4 separate regions of the Homo sapiens genome follow, and all the other regions are linked to region 1. Evidence: fine-mapped expression QTL. A gene starts in region 1. Each other region holds a variant in brackets. All regions are shown on one strand. Distances are from middle to middle.

Region 1 (5,222 bases):
AGTCAAGTTCTAAAGTAAGGGCAATATTCATAGAATCTAACCCTGCCATTGTTTAAAACAGCTAGTGCTTTCCAGGGTGAAGAAGTTGGCTTGCGTTTGGGGACTGTGTTAAGTTAGTTGAAGTGCTGACCTTTGAACTCGGGGGACAGTGTGATGAGAGGCTTGGGAAGGGAGGCTGCTGTAAATTGAGAACACGTTTGTCTCACATTTCAGATTCGCGGTTGGACACCAATTCTTTTTTTTTTTTTTTTGAGACAGAGTCTCGCTCTGTCGCCTAGGCTGGAGTGCAGTGGCGCGATCTTGGCTCACTGCAAGCTGCGCCTCCTGGGTTCACGCCATTCTCCTGCCTCAGCCTTCCGAGTAGCTGGGACTACAGGCGGTCGCCACCACGCCTGGCTATTTTTTTTTGTATTTTTAGTAGAGACAGGGTTTCACCGTGTTAGCCAGGATGGTCTTGATCTCCTGACCTTGTGATCTGCCCGCCTCGGCCTCCCAAAATGCTGGGATTACAGGCATGAACGTGAGCCACCGCGCCCGGCTGGTTGGACACCAATTCTGTGAGTTTCTTTTGGCACAGAGAGCTTCTAATTGAACTAGGGTAAGTTTGCCAGGCATAGGGCTGTTGTGAGATTTGCATGAGATAACATTTGGCCTTTTTTTTTTTTTTTTTTTTTTTTGAGACAGAGTCTCGCTCTGTCGCCCAGGCTGGAGTGAAGTGGTGTGATCTTGGCTCACTGCAACCTCCGCCTCCCGTGTTCAAGCGATTCTCCTGCCTCAGCCTCCTGAGTAGCTGGGATTATAAGCGCAGGCCACCACTCCTGGCTAATTTTTTTGTATTTTTAGTAGAGACAGGGTTTCACTGTGTTAGCCAGAAGATGGTCTCAATCTCCTGACCTCGTGATCTGCCCTCGGCCTCCCAAAGTGCTGAGATTACAGGCATGAGCCACCACATCCGGTATTAATGAGATAACATTTGGAAACCACTTGACATGCAGTAGGTGCTTAAGAAATAGGAAAAAAGGCCAGGCATGGTGGCTCATGCCTGTAATACCAGCACTTGGGGAGGCCAAGGCAGGTGGATCACCTGAGGTCGGGAATTCGAGACCAGCCTGACCAACATGGAGAAACCCGGTCTCTACTAAAAATACAAAATTAGCAGGGCGTGGTAGCACATGCCTGTAATCCCAGCTACTCGCGAGGCTGAGGCAGGAGAATCACTTGAACCCGGGAGGCAGAGGTTGTGGTGAGCCGAAATTGCACCATTGCACTCCAGCCTGGGCAACAAGAGCAAAACTCCACCTCAAAATAAAAAAAAAAAAAAAAAAGGAAAAAAGGCCAGGCACGGTGGCTCACACCTGTAATCCCAGCACTTTTTGGGAGGCCAAGGCGGGCAGATCACAAGGTCAGGAGTTCAAGATCAGCCTCGCCAATATGGTGAAACCCTGTTTCTACTAAAAATACAAAAATTAGCTGGGTGTGGTGGCGGGTGCCTGTAGTCCCAGGTACTCGGGAGGCTGAGGCAGAATAGCTTGAATCCCGGAGGCGGAGGTTGCAATGAGCTGAGATCCCACCATTGCACTCCAGCCTGGGCGACAGGGCAAGACAGTGTCTCAAAAAAAAAAAAAAAAAAAAAAAAAAAAAAAAAAAAAGAAAGAAAGAAAGAAATAGGAAAACTGGGCCGGGCACAGTAATCCCAGCACTTTGGGAGGTCGAGGCAGGTGGATCACCTGAGGTCAGGAGTTCAAGACCAGCCTGGCCAACATGGCAAAACCCCATCTCTATTAAAAATGCAAAAAATTAGCCTGGCGTGGTGGCAGGCGCCTGTAATTCCAGCTACTCGGAAGGCTGAGGCAGGAGAATCGCTTGAATCCGGGGGCGGAGGTTGCAGTGAGCCGAGATTGAGCCATTGCACTTCAGCCGGGACAATGAGAGCAAGACACCATCTCAAAAAACAAAAAAACAAAAAAAGCCAGGCGCGGTGGCTCACGCCTGTAATCCCAACACTTTGGGAGGCCAAGGCAGGCAGATCATGAGGTCAAGAAATCAAGACCATCCTGGTCAACATTGTGAAACCCCATCTCTATTAAAAAAAATTAGCCGGGCGTGGTGGCGCATGCCTGTAATCCCAGCTACTCGGGAGGCTGAGGCAGGAGAATCGCTTGAACCCGGGAGGCGGAGGTTACAATGAGCTGAGATCGCGCCACTGCACTTCAGCCTTGTAACAGAGCGAGACTCCGTCTCAAAAACAAAACAAAACAAAACAAAGAAATAGAAAAACAAAAACAACAAAACAACAAAAACCCAAAACCTTGTCCTGATTCAACACTCAAATTCACCAGCTGGAGAGGAAGAAAAAATTCCGTGACCACACAAGGGCCAACAATGTGGACCACACATGCAGCAGGGGCTACTTTGTTCTGCCCCAAGGCTTGCGGAGGGCCGCTGAAAATTTGCCATATTATATGAAGGGGGTGAACCTTAACAAATTGTCTCCTGCATCCCAAACTCGCTCCCCATCTGATCTTTATCTGGGGCAGCCCCCAAATTTGACCAGAAAGCTCTTATCGTTCACACTCGCTCCAGGAACCCCCAAATCCAGCCCCAGCTCCCCAGTCTCACTCTTCTGCTCCCCATGCACCTCGGTTGGTCTAGAGACCCTCCTGCCAATTTGAGTCTCAGCCAAAACCCCAAAGCGCGGCGACCCTGGCGCATGGCAGGACGGGATTTGTAGTTCCAGGGCTTATCGGAGGGTGGGGGAGAGGGAGGCCTTTACGCATGCCTTGGTGGCGGCTTTCTGCACGTGTTTCTCAGCCCAGGTTTCAGTCCAGCGGAACTGGCTACCTCGGAATCCCAACTGCTCCTTTAGGGTGTCTTCCGCGATTCTCCGAGTGGAGTTAGGCGCCTGCCGACACTTCCCTAACCTTGGAGGCCCGGGACTTGATTTTCATGAATGAACGGAGCCGGGACTGACTTTGCCTACGGCAAGTGGGTTGAGATAGCTGTTCCCCTCCTTCAGGCAGGGGCAAAAATTGACCTCTGCCTCTCTCGAGGGTCAAAAAGTTCCTCAGGGCAGGGTGGGTTGTTCTTTGGGATTAGAGCTGGTGAATTCATTAAATATCGGCTTAGGGAGGGGCTGAATACAGTAAAAGAACAGCCTTGAGCCTTGGAGGGTAAAGCCACGTTTTTAAGGAACAATTCAGAGCTGGCCAGGTCATGCTTAACTTGGATGATCTCTAATCGCGCGAACTGCTCTTATACCCATTTGACAAGTGGGGAAACTGAGGCTTCAAGTGGCAGGAGGTCTCCCACTTTGTTATCGGCAGGGCAGGGAGGGGAAACCAAGACGCTACAGGGTCTCCAGCTTTTTACCATCTGCTCCTCTCTCAAGAGAAGGAAAAACGGTGCCCTACTGTCTTCAGACGTCGCAAGGATCAAGAAGATTTCTTTCTTCATGACCCTGCCCTTGCCAGAATTTCCTGCGCTGTTCCACCTCATTCAACTTCAGGTAGGGAAAGGGATTAGGCGTGGTTCAAAGTTTATTTTATTAGTTCATTTCGTTTTATTCAAAAATTTATATCCTTGTGGCTTTTTCATCTCCTTGTAAAAACTATCAAACAGTACTGGAAAATAATGCAAAAAGTGGCAGAGGCTTCTGTAGGAACCCGGCTTGTCTCAGGCACTTACTTTGTCCTGCTTTCTTTCCTTTGTCTCTGGGGTATAAAGAGCACGCTCAGCTCTTTCCTTGCGCACACACAGCGTACTCCTCCCAAGTACCTCTGGATGGGGGAAGGGAGGCACATTTCAATTTTTAGTGGAGGAAGGTGACAAGGAGGGTGCTGGCTCTGGCCGAGGGGTTCCTGGATCCATCACACACAAAGTCCCCACGCGCTACCAAACTCCTGGCTCCAGCTAAAGAGCTTGCGGTCAGGTCAGTGAAAGATGCTGGGAAAACGAGACACTGGGAGGACCGGCTGGCTAGAGAGGCCAAAGAAACGGCAACTCTTTGGTCACGTGACCGGACCTTGTCTCAGCCCGGGTTTCCCAAGTGCCAGGGCACGTGTGAAGGTTGAACCTTCCGATTGGCTCGGCGGGACCAGTTTGAACGGAGTACGGGAGCCGCGGCGGCTCACCTACGGCCGCGTTTTTCTTTTTTTTTTTTCTTTCTTTCTTTTTTTTTTTTTTTTTTTTTTTTAATTCTCTCTCTTTGGCTCCCTCCTTCCGCGCGAGTCTCTGGAGAAGCCGCAGCGCGAGTTGCCGCCGCTGCTGCCCGGGGCCGGGTAAGTGGGCCTCACTCAGAGCCCGACCCTCTTGGCCCCGGCTTGCGTCGACCCCCGCCGGGCACCGAGCCTGCGCCGCGCGCGGCCCGGGCGTCGGGGCCGCGCCCGACCGGGAAAGGCCGGGAAGCCGGTTGGGCCCGATCCTCCTGGCAGCTAGAACGGGCCGGGCGGGGGAGGGGGGAACCGAGCAGAGCTTAGGGGGTGGGGCCTCGGAGCCAGGCCATGTCGGGGCTCCTCAAGAAGAGGGCCAGTGGGACTGCTGGGGTCGGGCTGGAGGGGATCTGATTGGGGGAAGCGTCTGGGGACTGCTTGGGGCCTGATTGGGGGACGTCGCGAGGATCGGGTGTGTGTAGGGGCCTGTTTCGGTGGGGCTTGGTTGGGTCTGATTGGGGGAGGCCGCACTGAAAAGTTGAGCGGGGTGGGGGGAGGGGAGCTCGTTGGGTCCTGACAGGGAGGGGCGTCAGACTTCGGCCTAGAGGGTTTTCTTGGATCTGACTTCGAGGCGTTGCTGGGATCCGTTGAGGGGAATGCCCCGGGGGGTGTTTACCCAGGCCGAACTGGGGGAGGCTGCAAGGATCGGACCAGGGGGTTACTGACACGAGGTGGTGGGGGGCTCGGCCGAACTTGACTGGGAGAGGCAACAGAGATCCGTCAGCAGGGGTTACTGCTGACAGGGTCGGAGGGAATTTCAGGGAGAGGCTTGGCCAGACCTGATTGGGGAAGGCGACTGGGATCGGTCCAGGGGGCTCCTATAGTGGGTTGGCCGGGCTTGGCTGGCTCTCATTCGAAGAGGCAGCAGAGACCTACCTGGGGACTGCTTTGGGCCTGATTAAGGGGAATCCTTAGAATTTGGCTAGGCCACAGAGGGGGATATCTGGCATCCACTGAGCTTGAAGGGCAGGAACAGGGGACAGGAGAGATCAGGACGATCGTCTTGGGAGGGCG
Region 2 (5,222 bases), 23 kb after region 1:
CCTAGCTCTGACTGACAGCTTCCTTCAAGGCAAGTCTCTTGGGGGTCGTCAGGGGTGGAGCCAAGCAGAAAGGTCATTTGTGATTGGCTTCTCTAAAGAGGAGGGATAGGAGGGCTGTTCTGATTGGACCGTTTTGTGTAGTTGGCTAAAAGACTCATTCGGATTGGTTGGGTGACTTTGGCTTTTTTTTTCCTTTGACTTGGGCAGCGTGTTGTCACCTTAGCGACTCCAGAGAAGCCTCTGTTGTTTGGAGGGTGTGGGTCTGTCCCTGGTTGGCCAGGGATTCTGGGTGGGGATTAGCCGGAGAAGGTCTTTTGTTTCCTCACTGGTAGTGGTTGGCCAGTCTCTAGTTGGAACTGGGGCGAGTAGTGAGTGAGGTGGGGCGGCCCCCTGGCCCCTGTGGGTGGCGGGGGCTGTGCAGGGCTCTGACTGGGTGCTCCCCCAGGGGCAGAGATGCAGCCTTATGTGCAGATGGTCCTCAACAACCTGGTGGAAATCATTAACCGACCCAACACACCCAAGACACTGCTGGAAAACACAGGTGGGCACCTGGCCCGGCTGCTGCCTGCACCCCTGCCTGCCTTCTGGAGGTGGGGTTCTGGGCTGGGAAGGGCATCAGAAAGAGCCTTGTCAAGGAACCAAGGAGGGTGTCTGGAAGTACCTGGAAGGGGTCACTGGGAGAAGCCCCAAGAAAGATGCAGCCTCAGGCTGGGTGCAGTGGCTCATGCCTGTAATCTCAGCACTTTGGGAGGCAGATCACCTGAAGTCAGGAGTTCGAGACCAGCCTGGCCAACATGGTGAAACCCCATCTCTACTAAAAAATACAAAAATTAGCCGGGGGTAATGGCACGTGCCTGCAATCCCAGCTACTCGGGAGGCTGAGGCAGGTTGCAATGAGCCAAGATCATGCCACTGCACTCCAGCCTGGGCAACAGAGCAAGACTCCATCTCAAAAACAAAACAAAACAAAAAAAAACAAAAAGGAAAGGGAAAGGAAAGAAAGAAAGATAGATGCAGAGAGACCTGGGAAGTGACTCAGGTGTGATGAGGAGGACCCCTGGCTGGGCCAAGCTTGGGGGACCAGGGTGGCTGCAGTAGCCATTCCCTTGGGGCTCATGGGGCGGGGCTTGGTGCCTTGTGCCAGAGGCCCCGCCACGTACCGTCCCGGGGCCGCTCGGGGTTGCAGGTCGCCTGACGAGTCCCTCTGCCATTCCAGCCATCACCATCGGCCGCTTGGGCTACGTGTGCCCCCAGGAGGTGGCACCCATGCTGCAGCAGTTCATCCGGCCTTGGTGTGTGTCCACGTGTCAAGCCTGCTGTGTGGTGGGCGGGACTGGCCCAACCCCCTCCCTCGCCTGTGCATTTCCAGCCCCATCTGCCTACTGACTCCCTGCCCTGCCCCACCCCCACAGATGCATGTCCCAGGCCCACTCACTGATCCCCAGTGACCCAGCCCTCCACAGATGCATGCCCAGCCTGCCCTCTGACCTCCAGCTGCTCACCTTCCCACAGGTGCACGTCCCTCAGGAACATCAGGGACAACGAGGAGAAGGACTCAGCCTTCCGCGGCATCTGCATGATGATCGGTGTCAACCCGGGGGGCGTTGTGCAGGTTGGGGCAGCTGGGCTCTGAGGGCAGGCGCGGGCGCTGGGCTCGGGCGGCCCCTCACCTGGGATCCGTCACGTTTCAGGACTTTATTTTCTTCTGCGATGCTGTAGCCTCCTGGGTGAGCCCGAAGGATGACCTTCGGGACATGTTTTATAAGGTGAGGCTCTGTCTGGGCCCTGATCTAGTTCCGGGAGCAGGCAGGGGTGAGACCATCTGGTAACAATGGGGCCTGGGGATGGGGGAAGAGGCGCACTCCCCTTGTTCTGCCCCTGCCTACCCCTCACCACCACCCTCCCCACAGATTCTCCACGGCTTCAAAGACCAAGTTGGGGAAGATAACTGGCAGCAGTTCTCTGAGCAATTCCCGCCGCTGCTCAAGGAGAGGCTGGCGGCTTTCTATGGGGTCTAGGTGATCATGGAGACTGCCAGGTAAGGAGACTGCAGCTGGCAAGTCAGCACTGTCTTGGGGGCCGAAAGGTCCCAGGCCATGACCTTCCTCCTCCCCCTGCAGGTTTCTGTCTGCGTCGTCGTCGGAGGGATTACTGGGGAGTGCGCTGCATCCGGAAGTCGCTGTGCCCTGGTTGAGGGGGGTTAGGGAGGAGTGAGTGGGACTCAAATCCAGATGCCTTCCCCGTCCGTCCGTCCGTCCGTCCATCCGTCCACTTGCCCTCCTGGCAGGTGGGTGGGGCCACCATGCTCATCCTACAAACGGGGAGGTGGGGGGGACTTCTGGTGGGCAAGGGCCCCTGGGCTCTAATAGGGTCATCTCTGGCAGCCCACTTGGGCCAGCTACGTGGGAGGGAGGAATTACACAGCTGACCGAATCCGGCTTCGGATGAGGTGAGGGAGGAGCAGGTCAGGAGGGGGGCCCTCGTAGGGACGCGTACACTCACACGGACACACATGGCCACACGCATGTGCGGGTGCCATAACCGGCGAGGCTGGGCCAGCCGCTCCACCATTTCCCCGACTGCATGGAGACAGTAGAATTAGTGAACCCCTGAGTTAACCCGTAAGGCCTTCCGTGTAACCTGCATCTAGAGTTTAAGAAGCTTCTGCTGTTTTGCCGGAATTGGCGGTGACTGGGGAGGGCTGGGTGGGTGGGGGGCCTCAGGCGGGATCTCGGGGCGGGGGGAGGAGGATGGTGACCTTGGGAGTCGCCCTGTCAGCACGCACATGCTTGGGACCC[A/G]CTCCACACACTCCCTGCCAGCTTTGTTGCAGCCTCAGCTGGTGGTGTCTCCGTCCTTATCCTAGCCTAGCTCGCAGGGTGAGAACCACTGGAGTGGCTGGGGCTGGCCAGAGGTCACCGTTTCTCCTTCCTGTGTGCTCCAGTGGCTTTTGAAGACACTGGGTTGGGACCTTTTTCCTGAAGAGAGCTGGGTGTAGCCAGAGCTACTGGCACCTACCCCGAGCATCTCTCTCTGTAAGCAGCTTCAGGGGCAGTCCGTTTCTCTGTGCTTCTGAAACCCCCTTCTCACGTTTCAGGCCCCAGTTTTAACTCAAGGCCTGGGGCAGGGGCGTTTAATTGATGATGACAGAGGACACAGGTTTTTGCCAGCAAAAAGGAAAACCAAGGCTTGGTGGAAGGGAAAGGTGGTGTGTCCCCTGTTCCCTATTCCATCTCCCTGGGACTTCCTGCTCATCATAGTACCCAGTGAGCCCAGAGATCCTACTAGACTGGGTCAGCAATTCTAGAGAACCTTCCGGAATAGTCTGGGAACATGGTCAAGGTGGAAGGGGCTCCCCTAGAGAGGGTGGGGGTGTAGTTACTTCCCAGTTGGCCAGAAAACTGGGCCTTGCAGACCCCCTTAGCATTTTTTCCCTTTTTTTCCTTCCCTGCTTTCTACTTCTTTGGGGAGCCCCTTGTGTTTTGGAGTCTGACTGGAGTCTCGCATCCTGGGGCCTGCTCCATCCATCCCTCCTGGGCGCCAGACCCTCCATCCAAGCCCTGTGTCTTTCCATAGTCAGGGTCAGGCCCTGCATCTATTCCAAGGGGCACTCAGTACACATTCCATAAATTAGCTGGGTGTCCCTGCACGCCCACCCCATGAAACTCGAGCAGGTCTCTGGAAGCCATTTGTTAAAAAAAAAAAAAAAAGTTTTAAAAATACCTTTTAATTTTCTGGTAATTCCAGTTCTTTGAAGCATCCTCTGCTGGGTCTTGGGGTGTGTGGATGGATTGGCTGTCTGATGGGATTGGTAACCCCTCGCTACTCAAGATGGGGGGATACAAACACCTTCAGGGAAGGGGAGCCTGGTTCTTCTCGTTTTCCTTTTTTTTTTTTTTTTTAAAAAAAAACTATTTAATTTTTTAATTTATTTTTGGTTGTTTTTTGCACAATGAAGTTTCAGCTTCTCAACCTTCTCCCCTACCCAGGGCTGTGGACCCAGACTGGCCTTGAGCCACAGTCCCTCTTTCCCTCCTCACCCTCTTCCCCCTGCGGGCTCCCGGGTCTGTCCATTTGTTACTGTGCTGTGCTGGGGATTGGCGCCGAGGTGGCGTGAGATTCCACTTGTGTAGAACTTTGTTGAGTAAAGATCAGTTTCTTGTGAACTCCTTAGTCTGTGGCTTCCTGTGTCCTTGGCTTTGGTAGTGAAGAAATGTCGGGGGCACCGGGGATACTTGAGAGTGGGAAGATAGACGAATGTGAAAGATGGAAGATTAAATTTGTAACATATATGAAATGTGCAGCTCATTCTCTGGGACTTCAGCTCACTAAGGGTGAGCCATTAGTGTCACAGCCCAGGTTCAAGATGCCCCTCTGCCGTACTCTAAACTGAGTGGTAAGGGGTGAGGCCTTGCCGCACTCTTATCATCAGCTGACCCTGGGTCAAGGTTTTCATAGAAGGTTCAGCCCAGCCCCAGGCCGAGGGTAATTTAATTAATATTAGTTACAATTACTCAGGCAAATGAGAAGTAGTTTCAGCTGTGGGGGGAAACCACAATCTTCAGAATAAAATCTTTCTTTTTTTTGAGACCGGGTCTTGCTCCGTCACCCAGGCTGGAGTGCAGTGGCGCAATCATGGCTCAGTGCAACCTCAACCTCCCTGGCTCAACCAGTCCTCCCACCTCAGCCACCCAAGTAGCTGGGACTACAGGTGCATGCCACCATGCTGGCTAATTTTTGTATTTTTTGTAGAGGGGGTTTTCGCTATGTTGCTGAGGCTGGTCTTGAACTCCTGGGCTCAAGCAATCCACCTACTTTAGCCTCCCAAAGTGCTGGGATTACAGGTGTGGGCCACCGCCCCCAGCCAAAATAAAATCTTACTGCAACCTTGGTGTGGCCCAAAGACCAACGTGGGAAAATTTAAAAATACTGACACACATCCAATATTCAACAAATAAGTCCTGCATTCTAGTGAGAGGATAGAGTATAAAAAGTGGAACTGTGCTAAGTCCTATAGAGAAAAACAGGAAGGCAGAGAGAATGGTGGGGGAAACGGTTGAAATCTTATGTAGGGTGACCTGCAAAGGCCACACTGAGAAGACGATGTTTGAACAGAGCCATGGAGAGAAGAGTGTCAAGTAGAGCAAACAGCAAGGACTGCGCAGATGACCTACGTGGATTGGTTAGCTGCCTGGCTCAAAAGAGGCTTGCAGTAAATACCTGCA
Region 3 (5,000 bases), 37 kb before region 1:
CCTGGGCTCCACCCACCCTGGCTTCCTCCAGCTCACATGGCGCCCAGCACTGGGCTTCAGCCAGGTGCTCGAGAGCTTTGAGGCCATGATCTCTGCTCTTCCCTCTCCCAGATTGGTGGGGAGGGAGGGCGGGAGGTAGATATAGGCCTGTTCTTTTTAGCAATGTGATTCTTGTTGTTGATTCTCTCTCTGGAGTTCATGTGCTGCCTCAGGAGACTCTGATTTTATATTTGAGAAAAATAAAGGCGTTCAATCTGCCCTGGCTGTGCTCTGGGCACCAAGGTGAGGGAGAGAAAGTGGGCCAGAGGCTTAGCCCATTGCTTTTAAGAAAAGCTTAGCGGCCAGGTACGGTGGCTCACGCCTGTAACCCCAGCACTTTGGGAGGCTGAGGCGGGTGGATCACCTGAGGTCAGGAGTTTGAGACCAGCCTGGCCAACATGGCAAAACCCCTCCTCTACTAAAAATACAAAAATTAGCAGGGCATGGTGGTACATGCCTGTAATCCCAGCTACTCGGGAGGCTGAGGTGGGAGAATCGCTTGAACCTGGGAAACAGAGGTTGTAGTGAGCTGAGATCATGCCATTGCACTCCAGCCTGGACAACAGAGCAAGACTCCATCTCAAAAAGAAAAAGAAAGAAAAGCTTGGCTTGCATTCTTACTAAAATGTGAGTGACCAATAGCACCAACCAGAGGTAGGTGAGGATCACGTTTGTGTGTCTGTGAATGTGTGGTGGTTTTGTTTTTTGGTTGTTGTTGCTTTTTTTTTTTTTTTTTTTTGAGATGGAGTCTCACTCTGTCGCCCAGGCTGGAGTGCAGTGGCACGATCTTGGCTCACTGCAGCCTCTGCCTCCTGGGTTCAAGGGATTTTCCTGCTTCAGCCTCCTGAGTAGCTGGGACCACCTGCGCATGCCACCACGACTGGCTAATTTTTGCATTGTTAGTAGAGACGGGGTTTCACCATGTTGGCCAGGGTGTTCTTGAACTCCTGACCTCAGATGATCCGCCCACCTCAGCCTCCTAAAGTGCTGGGGTTACAGGAGTGAGCCACCACGCCTGGCCACTAAGCTTTTCTTAAAAGCAGTGGGCTAAACCCTGGCCCACTTTATCTCCCTCACCTTGGTGCCCAGAGTTACCAGAGTGAGCCACCACTGTGGAACAATCATAGCTTGCTGCAGCCTGGGCAACAAGAGTGAGACCCCATCGAAAAAAAAAAAGAATAAAAAGGCCCAGAAAGGAGGCCTCACCAAGGAAGTGACATTATTGAAGCAGATACCTGAAGGAGGTGAGGGAGAGGCCATGTAAGTACCTGGGGAAGATCCAGGCAGAACAGTTTGCACAAAGGCCCTGAGATGACACCTCGCTTGGTGTGCTGGAGGGACAGTAAGGGGACCAGAGTGGCTGGAGTGGAGTGAATAAGAAAGCAGAAGGCCGGGCGTGGTGGCTCACGCTCATGCCTGTAATCCCAGCACTTTAGGAGGCTGAGGCTGGCGGATCACAAGGTCAGGAGATTGAGACCATCCTGGCTAACATGGTGAAACCCTGTCTCTACTAAAAATACAAAAAAATTAGCCGGGCGTGGTGGCAGGTGCCTGTAGTCCCAGCTACTCGGGAGGCTGAGGCAGGAGAATGAACCCGGGAGGCGGAGGTTGCAGCGAGCCGAGATTGTGTCACTGCACTCCAGCCTGGGCGATAGAGCAAGACTCCATCTCAAAAAATAAAAGGAAAGCAGAAGGCCGGGTGCAGTGGCTCACGCCTGTAATCACAGCAGTTTGGGAGGCAGAGGCAGGCAGATCACGAGGTCAGGAGATCGAGACCATCCTGGCTAACACGGTGAAACCCGTCACTACTAAAAATACAAAAAAATGCGGCCGGGCACAGTGGCTCACGCCTGTAATCACAGCACTTTGGGAGGCTGAGACGGGCGGATCACGTGAGGTCAGAAGTTTGAGACCAGCCTGACCAACATGGAGAAACGCCGTCTCTACTAAAAAAAAAATACAAAATTAGCCGGATGTGGTGGCATACGCCTGTAATCCCAGTCACTCTGGAGGCTGAGGCACAAGAATCGCATGAATCTGGGAGGCGGAGGTTGTGGTGAGCTGAGATCATGCCATTGCACTCCAGCCTGGGCAACAAGAGCAAAACTCCGTCTCAAAAAAATAATAATAATAAATAAAAATAAAAATACAAAAAAATTAGCCAGGCGTGGTGGCGGGTGCCTGTGGTCCCAGCTACTCGGGAGGCTGAGGCAGGAGAATGGCGTGAACCCGGGAGGC[G/A]GAGCTTGCTTGCAGTGAGCCGAGATGGCTCCACTGGCACTCCAGCCTGGGCGATACAGCGAGACTCTGTCTCAAAAAAAAAGAAAAAGAAAAAGAAAGCAGATGAGGGTGGGGAGATTATTCAGGGACTTGTGGGCTGCAGAGAATACTTTAACTTTTATTCTAAGTGCTGTGGGAGCCACGGAAGAGTCTAAGCAAAGGAGGGATGTGACCTGGCTCGGGTGTTCATAGGCGCCCTCTGGTGGCCACTCTGGGAGAAACAGGCTTAGGAGGCCAGGGCCAGAGCTTGAAGACCTGGTTGGTAGTCCAGGTGGGTGGGTGGGTGATAGTGAGGGCTCTGGCCAGGCTGGGGTCCTGGAGGAGTGAGAAATGGTTGGATTCTAGATACGATTTAAAGGCAAAGCTGGCAGGGCACGGTGGCTCACGCCTGTGATCCCAGCACTTTGGCTGGCCAACATGGTGAAACCCTGTCTCTACTAAAAATACAAAAATTAGCTGGGTGTAGTGGGCGCCTGTAATCCAAGCTACCTGGGAGGCTGAGGCAGGAGAATCACTTGAACCCGGGAGGCGAAGGTTGCAGTGAGCCAAGATCATGCCATTGCAATCCAGCCTGGTGACAAGAGTTAAATTCCGTCTCAAAAATAAAATAAAAATAAAGGCAAATCTCGGCCGGGCGCGGTGGCTCACGCCTGTAATCCCAGCACTTTGGGAGGCTGAGGCGGGCGGATCACCTGAGGTCAGGAGTTCGAGACCAGCCCCAACATGGAGAAACCCCGTCTCTACTAAAAATACAAAATTAGCCGGGCGTAGTGGTGCATGCCTGTAATCTCAGCTACTCGGGAGGCTGAGGCAGGAGAATTGCTTGAACCTGGGAGGTGGAGGTTGCAGTGAGCCGAGATCGCGCCATTGCGCTCCAGCCTGGGCAACAAGAGCGAAACTCCGTCTCAAAAACAAATAAATAAATAAAATAAAAATAAAGGCAAAGCTGATAAGATTTGCTGCTGGGTTGGTGTGGCCACTGGGTTGATGTGATGGCCTGTGGCGGGAATAGGAATCCACATGACTTCTTTTGGCCTTATCACCTGGAAGGACAAAGCTAACACACAGGGTGGGGCAGATTGGGGGGCTGATTAGGAGCTGGATTTCAAGTGTGTTATGTTTGAAGTGTCTGTGACATCTCTGCAAGGAGGCATCCAAGAGGCAGTTGGCTTTCTGGGTCTACAGTTAGAGAAGGGATCCTGGCTGGATTTCTTTTTCTTCCTTTTTCTTTTTCAGATGGGGTCTCACTCTGTTGCCACCCAGGCTTGAGTGCAGTGGCACAATCTCACTGCAACCTCCATCTCTCAGGTTCAAGCGATTCTCCTGCTTCAACCTCTGAGTAGCTGAGATTATAGGTGCCCACCACCTCGCCTGGCTAATTTTTGTATTTTTAGTAGAGACGGGCTTTCACCATGTTGGCCAGGCCTGTCTCCAGCTCCTGACCTCAAATGATCCACCCATCTCCACCTCCCAGCTGGGATTACAGGTGTGAGCCCCACTGCAGCACCAGGCCTCTTTTTTTTTTTTTTTTTGAGACAGGGTCTCACTGTGTTGCCCAGGCTGGAGTGCAGTGGCATGACCAGAGCTCACTGCCTTGGCTGGACTTTTATATTCAGGAGTCATCAGGAGTCCGTGTGATATTAAATTAGTAAAACCTGAAGCCCTGAGGGCCTGAGAATGCAGAGGCTTGAGGCAAGAAGAACCCATGATCCTGGGACAGTGGCTGGCTCATTAATGAGTAATGCCAGGGCACTGATGTGGGTGTTTCAGACAGCAGAGTTTGGGAAGAATTAAGCAGGGCACCATCATAAAACCTGGAAGAGGTGAAACCCCGTCTCTACTAAAAATACAAAAAATTAGCCAGGTGTGGTGGTGCGCACCTGTAATTCCAGTTACTTGGGGGACTGAGGCACAAGAATCCCTTGAACCAGGGAGGTGGAGGTTGCAGTGACCCAAGATCGTGGCACTGCACTCCAGCCTGGGTGATGAAGTGAGACTCTGTCTCAAAGGAAAAAAAAAAACCTAGAATAAGCTGGGCCTGGTGGTTGTGGTGGAGGAGGAGGAAGACGAGAAGGAGGAGAAGGAAGAAGAAGAAAGAAGAAACCTGCAGCAGGGCTTGGTGGCTCACGCCTGTAATCCCAGCACTCTGGGGGGCAGAGGTGGGTGGATCACCTGAAGTCAAGAGTTCGAAACCAGCCTGGCCAACATGGTGAAACCCCCCTCTCTACTAAAAATTAAAAAAAGTTAGCTGGGTGTGGTGGTGCGTGCCTGTAATCCCAGATACTTGGGAGGCTAAGGCAGGAGAATTGCTTGGGCCTGGGAGGCAGAGGTTGCAGTGAGCAGAAATCACACCATTGCACTCCAGGCTGGGCAACAGAGAGAGACTCCGTCTCAAAAAAAAAAAAAAAAAAAAGAACCTGCAAGAACTCCCAAATTTTACTTAGGACAATGGATAATGTCTGGCAGGAGAAATCAGACTAACAACGTTTGAGTAAAAATCACTAGCAATTTATTGAGCACCTACTGTATACCAAATGCTTTAATGCCATTCTTTCATCCTCATGACAACTCGAGGAGGTAGTCAGTCACATCTTCACTTGAAGGAAAGAATTCAGGCAGGACACTGATAGAGACCTCTCAGGCAGTGGGGGTTGGGAAGTAGAGCTGGTGGTCAGGGCGGGCTG
Region 4 (5,125 bases), 52 kb after region 1:
TCACCCAAGGTTAGACATGGCCGTCGGCTCCCCCTTGCCCAGGGGTCAGTGCCAGTTGCTCGGCCTGGCATCTGCAGCCCAGCCTGACCCCGGATCTTGCCGCACCTGCCGCCACCCTGAAGCCTTTGTTTCCTGACTGATGCATGCGCAGGCTACACCTCTTAACATATGCTGTTCCCTTTGCCTGGAATGCCCTTCCTGCCTCATCTTCTCTCTAGCCCAAGCTGGGCACGGTGTCTCAGGCCTGTAATCCCAGCACTTTGGGAGGCCGAGGCGGGTGAATCACTTGAGGTCAGGAGTTTGAGACCAGCCTGGCCAACATGGTGAAACCCTGTCTCTACTAAAAATACAAAAATTAGCCAGGTATGGTGGTAGGGGCCTGTAATCCCAGCTACTCAGGAGGCTGAGACATGAGAATCACCTGAACCCTGGGGGGAAGAGGTTGCAGTGAGCTGAGATGGCGCCACTGCATTTGCCTGGGCAATAGTCTCAAAAAAAGAAAAAAGGGCCGGGTGTGGTGGCTTACGCCTGTAATCCTAGCACTTGGGAAGGCTGAGGTGGGTGGATCATGAGGTCAGGAGTTTAAGACCAGCCTGACCAACATAGTGAAACCCTGTCTCTACTAAAAATACAAAAATTAGCTGGGTGTGGTGGCACGCACCTATAATCCCAACTACTCAGGAGACTGAGGCAGGAGAATCGCTTGAACTTGGGAGGCGGAGTTTACAGTGAGCCAAGATTGCGCCACTGCACTCTAGCCTGGGCGACAGAGCAAGACTTGTCTCAAAAAAAAAAAAAAAAAAAAAAAAAAGATCCTAGCCTTCAGGCCCTGGAGTGACTGAGGTAAGGACAGGGCTGAGATGGGGCAGGCATCTAGGTATGAAGTAGGGCTGGGGGCACCTCACCTCCACCAGGTCCCAGAAGAACACCTTCCCGTCCTCAGAACAGCTGACCACATGTGTGTCACGCTCGCTCAGGCAGCAGTCCAGCTTGTATTCCTGGTTCTTATGGCCCTTGTACCTAAGGGTGGACAGGATCGGGGGGCTTGGTCCTCTCCAGGGGTGGGAGAGGAGGGAAGGGGATCCCCACGACCACAAGGACTCACTCGCCCAGCAGCTCCCCTGTGTCTTTGTCCAGGAGCCGCAATGTGGAGTCCAGGCTGGACACCAGGGTGCACTGCCCATCCCGGCTGAAGCAGGTGCAGGTGATGGGGCCTTGGGGGAAGGGTGGGTAGGTGAGTGAGGGTGGGGTGCCCCTGGTTGGCCCCCCATCTTCCCTGCCTGTCCCACATCCCCAGCCACACTCACTGCCCACGTAGTCTGAGAAGAGCTGCCCCATCCTTAGGTCATAGCGTCTCACGCGGCCATCCACGGAGCTGCAGGAGAGGGTAGATCCAGCGGGAACCTTGACTACACTCACATGGCTCCAGGCAGCCCTGTGCCTTCCCAGCCCAGTGGGCCTGCTCTTCCAGTGCACAGGAGTGGAATTCTGAAGCTCTGGCCTTGAGACTCAGGCCCAGGGCCAATTACGTCCTACTCCATCATTTCCAAGACCCACACCCCCTTTCCAAGCCCTTGGAGTCCTTCTGATTCCCCCTTTTCTTCCTTTTGTTTGAGACAGAGTTTTGCTCTTGTTGCTCAGGCTGGAGTGCAATGGCATGATCTTGGCTCACCGGAACCTCTGCCTCCCGGGTTCAAGAGATTCTCCTTCCTCAGCCTCCCGAGTAGATGGGAATACAGGCATGCACCACCACGCCCTGCTAATTTTGTATTTTTAGTAGAGACGGGGTTTCTCCATGTTGGTCAGGCTGGTCTCGAACTCCCAACCTCAGGTGATCCGCCCACCTCAGCCTCCCAAAGTGCTGGGATTACAGGTGTGAGCCACCCCACCTGGCCCAATTCCCCCTTTTCCTGCATTCTCCAGCTCCTCCTCCTCAGTACTCAGTCCCACCACTTTCCCCACTACCCAGCACCAGCATCTAGACTGTTCTGGTCTCCCTGCACCCCCCACAGCCACCAGAGGGAGCACTTTTCAAAGTACAGTTGACCCATGAACAACACGGTTTGAACTGAACGCGTCCACTTATATGTGGATTTTCTTCTGCCTCTATCAGCTGTGAGACACCAAGATCAATCCCTCCTCTTCCTCCTCCTCTGCTTTCTCAACACGAAGATCTTTATGACGATCTCTTCACTTCCACTTAATGAATAGAAAATATATTTTTTCCACCAGGCGCGGTGGCTCACGCCTGTGATTCCAGCTCTTTGGGAGGCCAGGGCAGGTGGATCACGAGGTCAAGAGATGGAGACCCTCCTGGCCAACATGGCGAAACCCCGTCTCTACTAAAAATACAAAAATTAGCTGGGCGTGGTGGCACGCGACTGTAGTCCCAGCTACTAGGGAGGCTGAGGCAGGAGAATCGCCTGAACCTAGAAGTTAGAGGTTGCAGTGAGCCGAGATCACGTCACTGCACTCCAGCCTGGCAACAGAGCGAGACTGCGTCTCAAAAAAAACAAAAATTCTTCCTTATGATTATTTTTATGTATTTATTTATTTAATTTATTTACTTATTTTGAGACGGAGTCTTGCTCTATCGCCCAGGAGTGTAGTGGTGCGA[T/C]GTCGGCTCACAGCAAGCTCTGCCTCCTGGGTTCACTCCATTCTCCTGCCTCAGCCTCCTGAGTAGCTGGGACTACAGGCGCCTGCCACTATGCCCGGCTAATTTTTTGTATTTTTAGTAGAGACGGGGTTTCACCGTGTTAGCCAGAATGATCTCGATCTCCTGACCTCATGATCCGCCTGCCTCTGCCTCCCAAAGTGCTGGGATTACAGGCATGAGCCACAGCGCCCGGCCTATTTTTATTTATTTTTAGAAATCATTTTATCTTTTTTTTTTTGAGATGGAGTCTCACTTTGTCGCCCAGGCTGGAGTGCAGTGGCACAATCTCGGCTCACTGCAACCTCCAACTCCCGGGTTCAGGCGATTCTCCTGCCTCCGCCTCCCGAGTGGCTGGGATTACAGGCTCCCGTCACCACACCTGGCTAATTTTTGCATTTTTAGTAGAGACGGGGTTTCACCATGTTGGCCAGGCTGATCTCAACCTCCTGACCTCAAGTGATCTGCCCACCTTGGCCTCCCAAAGTGCTGGGATTACAGGTGTGAGCCACCGTGCCCGGCCAGATTATTATTATTTTGTAGACAGTCTGTCTTTCACCCAGCATGGAGTGCAATGGTGCCTCGAACTCTTGGACTCAAGTGATCCTTCCACTTCAGCCTCCCAAGTAGCTGGGATTACAGCTGTGTGCCACTGTGCCCAGCTGAGAGTAGGTTTTAATCTGAGCATGGGGGCAGCTATGATTCCCCGTAGCACCTGGGGTGAGACCAGGTCCTGGCTCCACTCACCCTGCCAGGATCTCGTGGTCTGACACCTTCACACTGGACACGCCATCTCTGGCCTCATCCAGCGTCTGCACTGGCTCAGGCCTCCGTGAGCGGCAATCCCAACAGCGGATACTGGAATCAATAGAGCCTGTGAGGCCAGCATGATGGTGAGGTCAGGTTTGGAGGGGGAGGGCAGCACCCTGGGCCCCCGTGCTTAGGCCCCAGACTCACCGGACAGGATAACTGTGGCCTCTTCATTAAACTGCACCGTGTTCACCTTCTGAGAAAGTTATTGCCACTCAGAGGAGGCTGGACTTTGGAGGACTGGGATAAAGGCAGGGTTCCCAGTGTCGGTTAAAGCAAGGGCGAAGGGGAGGTGAAAGGTTTTGGGGGAACAGCAAGGACAGGGGTTGGTGACTGCCTAGCCTGGCATGCGGAGTGGGGGATCGTCATCTGGGGAAGGGATCCTTACGGTGTAATGGGGGTGGCCGTGTCACCACCTATGCGCTAATACGGGTCCCCTCCACTCAAATGAGGGTCTCCAGGCTTTCACTCACCCCTGCGTGGCCCCGGAATTTGCGCACGACCTGCCCTGATGCCACATCCCACAGAACCACCGCCTTGTCCCCGCCGCCGGAGCAGAGACTACTGTTGTCAAAGGAGCTGGAGTAAAGGAGGAGGAGGATCAGCATCGACCTCGGATCCCAGCCTCAGCGCTCCCATCCCAGCCTGGTCCCCGGCTCACCCGGCCGCATCCAGCACCTCGTAGCCGTGGCCGCTGTACGTCCGCAGCAGCGTCCCCCGAAGCGGGTTCCACAGCTTCAGCGTCTTGTCACTGCCGCACGTCAGGCAGTAATTGCCATCCACTGGGGAACACCAGGCGGGGGTTACTGGGCCGTCGATCTCAGGAGGCGGGAGGAGGACCCGGAATGAAGACGAAGGCGCTCACCATTAAATCGTACGGCTCGCACTGCCCCCTGCCCGCAGTCCAGCGTCTTCAACCGTTTCTGCGGCAGCTCTGGAGGCCGCGGCTTTGGCTCAGGGAAAGCCATGCTCCCAGGACTCCTTCCTTGCAGCCTTAAATCGGTCTGTACGGAAAATTCCGCGCCTTAGAAACCCACGCTTGGGTGTAACCTTATTATTGTTCTTCCTGACCTACTTCCTGTTTATCACTTCCGGGTTCATCATTTTGGCATTTCGGTGATCGGGTTGGAACTATTGAAGCCCGCTTTCAGGTTCTTTTCCCCATTTTCCCTTTGAAAGGAAGACTTCTGGCTTCTCCTAAATCTCCGTTCTCTGGGTAAGGGGAGTCCAAGCCTCTGTCATGAGGAACGGAAATGCGAGGGCCTCGGGTGTTACTCTAAAATCCGCCCTCAGCTTGCACGCCGGAAGCTGCGATTCCTGCAGCGGAAGAGGCGTGATCTGGCCTTCGACTCGCTATGTCCACTAACAATATGTCGGACCCACGGAGGCCGAACAAAGTGCTGAGGTGAGGACCCCAGCGTCGTGGGCACGGGTTCGGGTTGTGGGTGTGGATCGGGGCCCTGGGAAGCGCCTGTCTATCCCGGGGGCAGGACCTGAGCGCCCCTGACCCTCGAGCCTGTCGCAGGTACAAGCCCCCGCCGAGCGAATGTAACCCGGCCTTGGACGACCCGACGCCGGACTACATGAACCTGCTGGGCATGATCTTCAGCATGTGCGGCCTCATGCTTAAGGTGGGCGGGGTTGAGCTTCTATGGGTGTAGT

Evidence for each region. PIP is the estimated chance that this variant, and not a neighbour inherited with it, causes the effect.
Region 2: its variant is fine-mapped to the expression of TNPO2 in whole blood (INTERVAL, PIP 0.99).
Region 3: its variant is fine-mapped to the expression of TNPO2 in whole blood (INTERVAL, PIP 0.95).
Region 4: its variant is fine-mapped to the expression of TNPO2 in whole blood (INTERVAL, PIP 0.98).

The regions. Positions count from the first base shown.
Region 1 is chr19:12,721,532-12,726,753 of GRCh38, reverse strand. It overlaps TNPO2 (transportin 2), which reads left to right and starts at 2,822. Exons shown (of 26, transcript NM_001382241.1): 1 at 2,822-2,985; 2 at 3,389-3,505. RefSeq lists enhancers at 2,435-3,051, 3,052-3,670, 3,723-3,872, 3,671-4,288, 4,289-4,907 and a silencer at 4,373-4,462.
Region 2 is chr19:12,698,142-12,703,363 of GRCh38, reverse strand. It overlaps TNPO2 (transportin 2), which reads left to right. Exons shown (of 26, transcript NM_001382241.1): 21 at 446-541; 22 at 1,187-1,292; 23 at 1,513-1,612; 24 at 1,692-1,766; 25 at 1,911-2,038; 26 at 2,121-4,163. The coding sequence ends at 2,018. Among named protein-coding and RNA genes, the nearest start is that of SNORD135, 2.9 kb to the left of the region's middle. RefSeq lists enhancers at 1-529, 1,140-1,749, 1,027-2,226. The variant A/G (reference allele first, on the strand shown) is at 2,799.
Region 3 is chr19:12,758,261-12,763,260 of GRCh38, reverse strand. BEST2 (bestrophin 2) reads right to left here. Exons shown (of 10, transcript NM_017682.3): 10 at 4,803-5,000. It overlaps HOOK2 (hook microtubule tethering protein 2), which reads left to right. Exons shown (of 23, transcript NM_013312.3): 23 at 1-258. Among named protein-coding and RNA genes, the nearest start is that of BEST2, 9.0 kb to the right of the region's middle. The variant G/A (reference allele first, on the strand shown) is at 2,278.
Region 4 is chr19:12,669,097-12,674,221 of GRCh38, reverse strand. WDR83 (WD repeat domain 83) reads right to left here. Exons shown (of 11, transcript NM_001099737.3): 3 at 4,329-4,467; 4 at 4,125-4,245; 5 at 3,937-4,042; 6 at 3,611-3,659; 7 at 3,401-3,527; 8 at 1,308-1,375; 9 at 1,106-1,214; 10 at 906-1,020. The coding sequence starts at 4,431. It overlaps WDR83OS (WD repeat domain 83 opposite strand), which reads left to right and starts at 4,807. Exons shown (of 4, transcript NM_016145.4): 1 at 4,807-4,868; 2 at 4,989-5,094. The coding sequence starts at 4,819. It also overlaps a transcript of DHPS not described here. RefSeq lists a cis regulatory region at 1,731-2,311 and enhancers at 3,186-3,859, 4,019-4,108, 4,249-4,338. The variant T/C (reference allele first, on the strand shown) is at 2,618.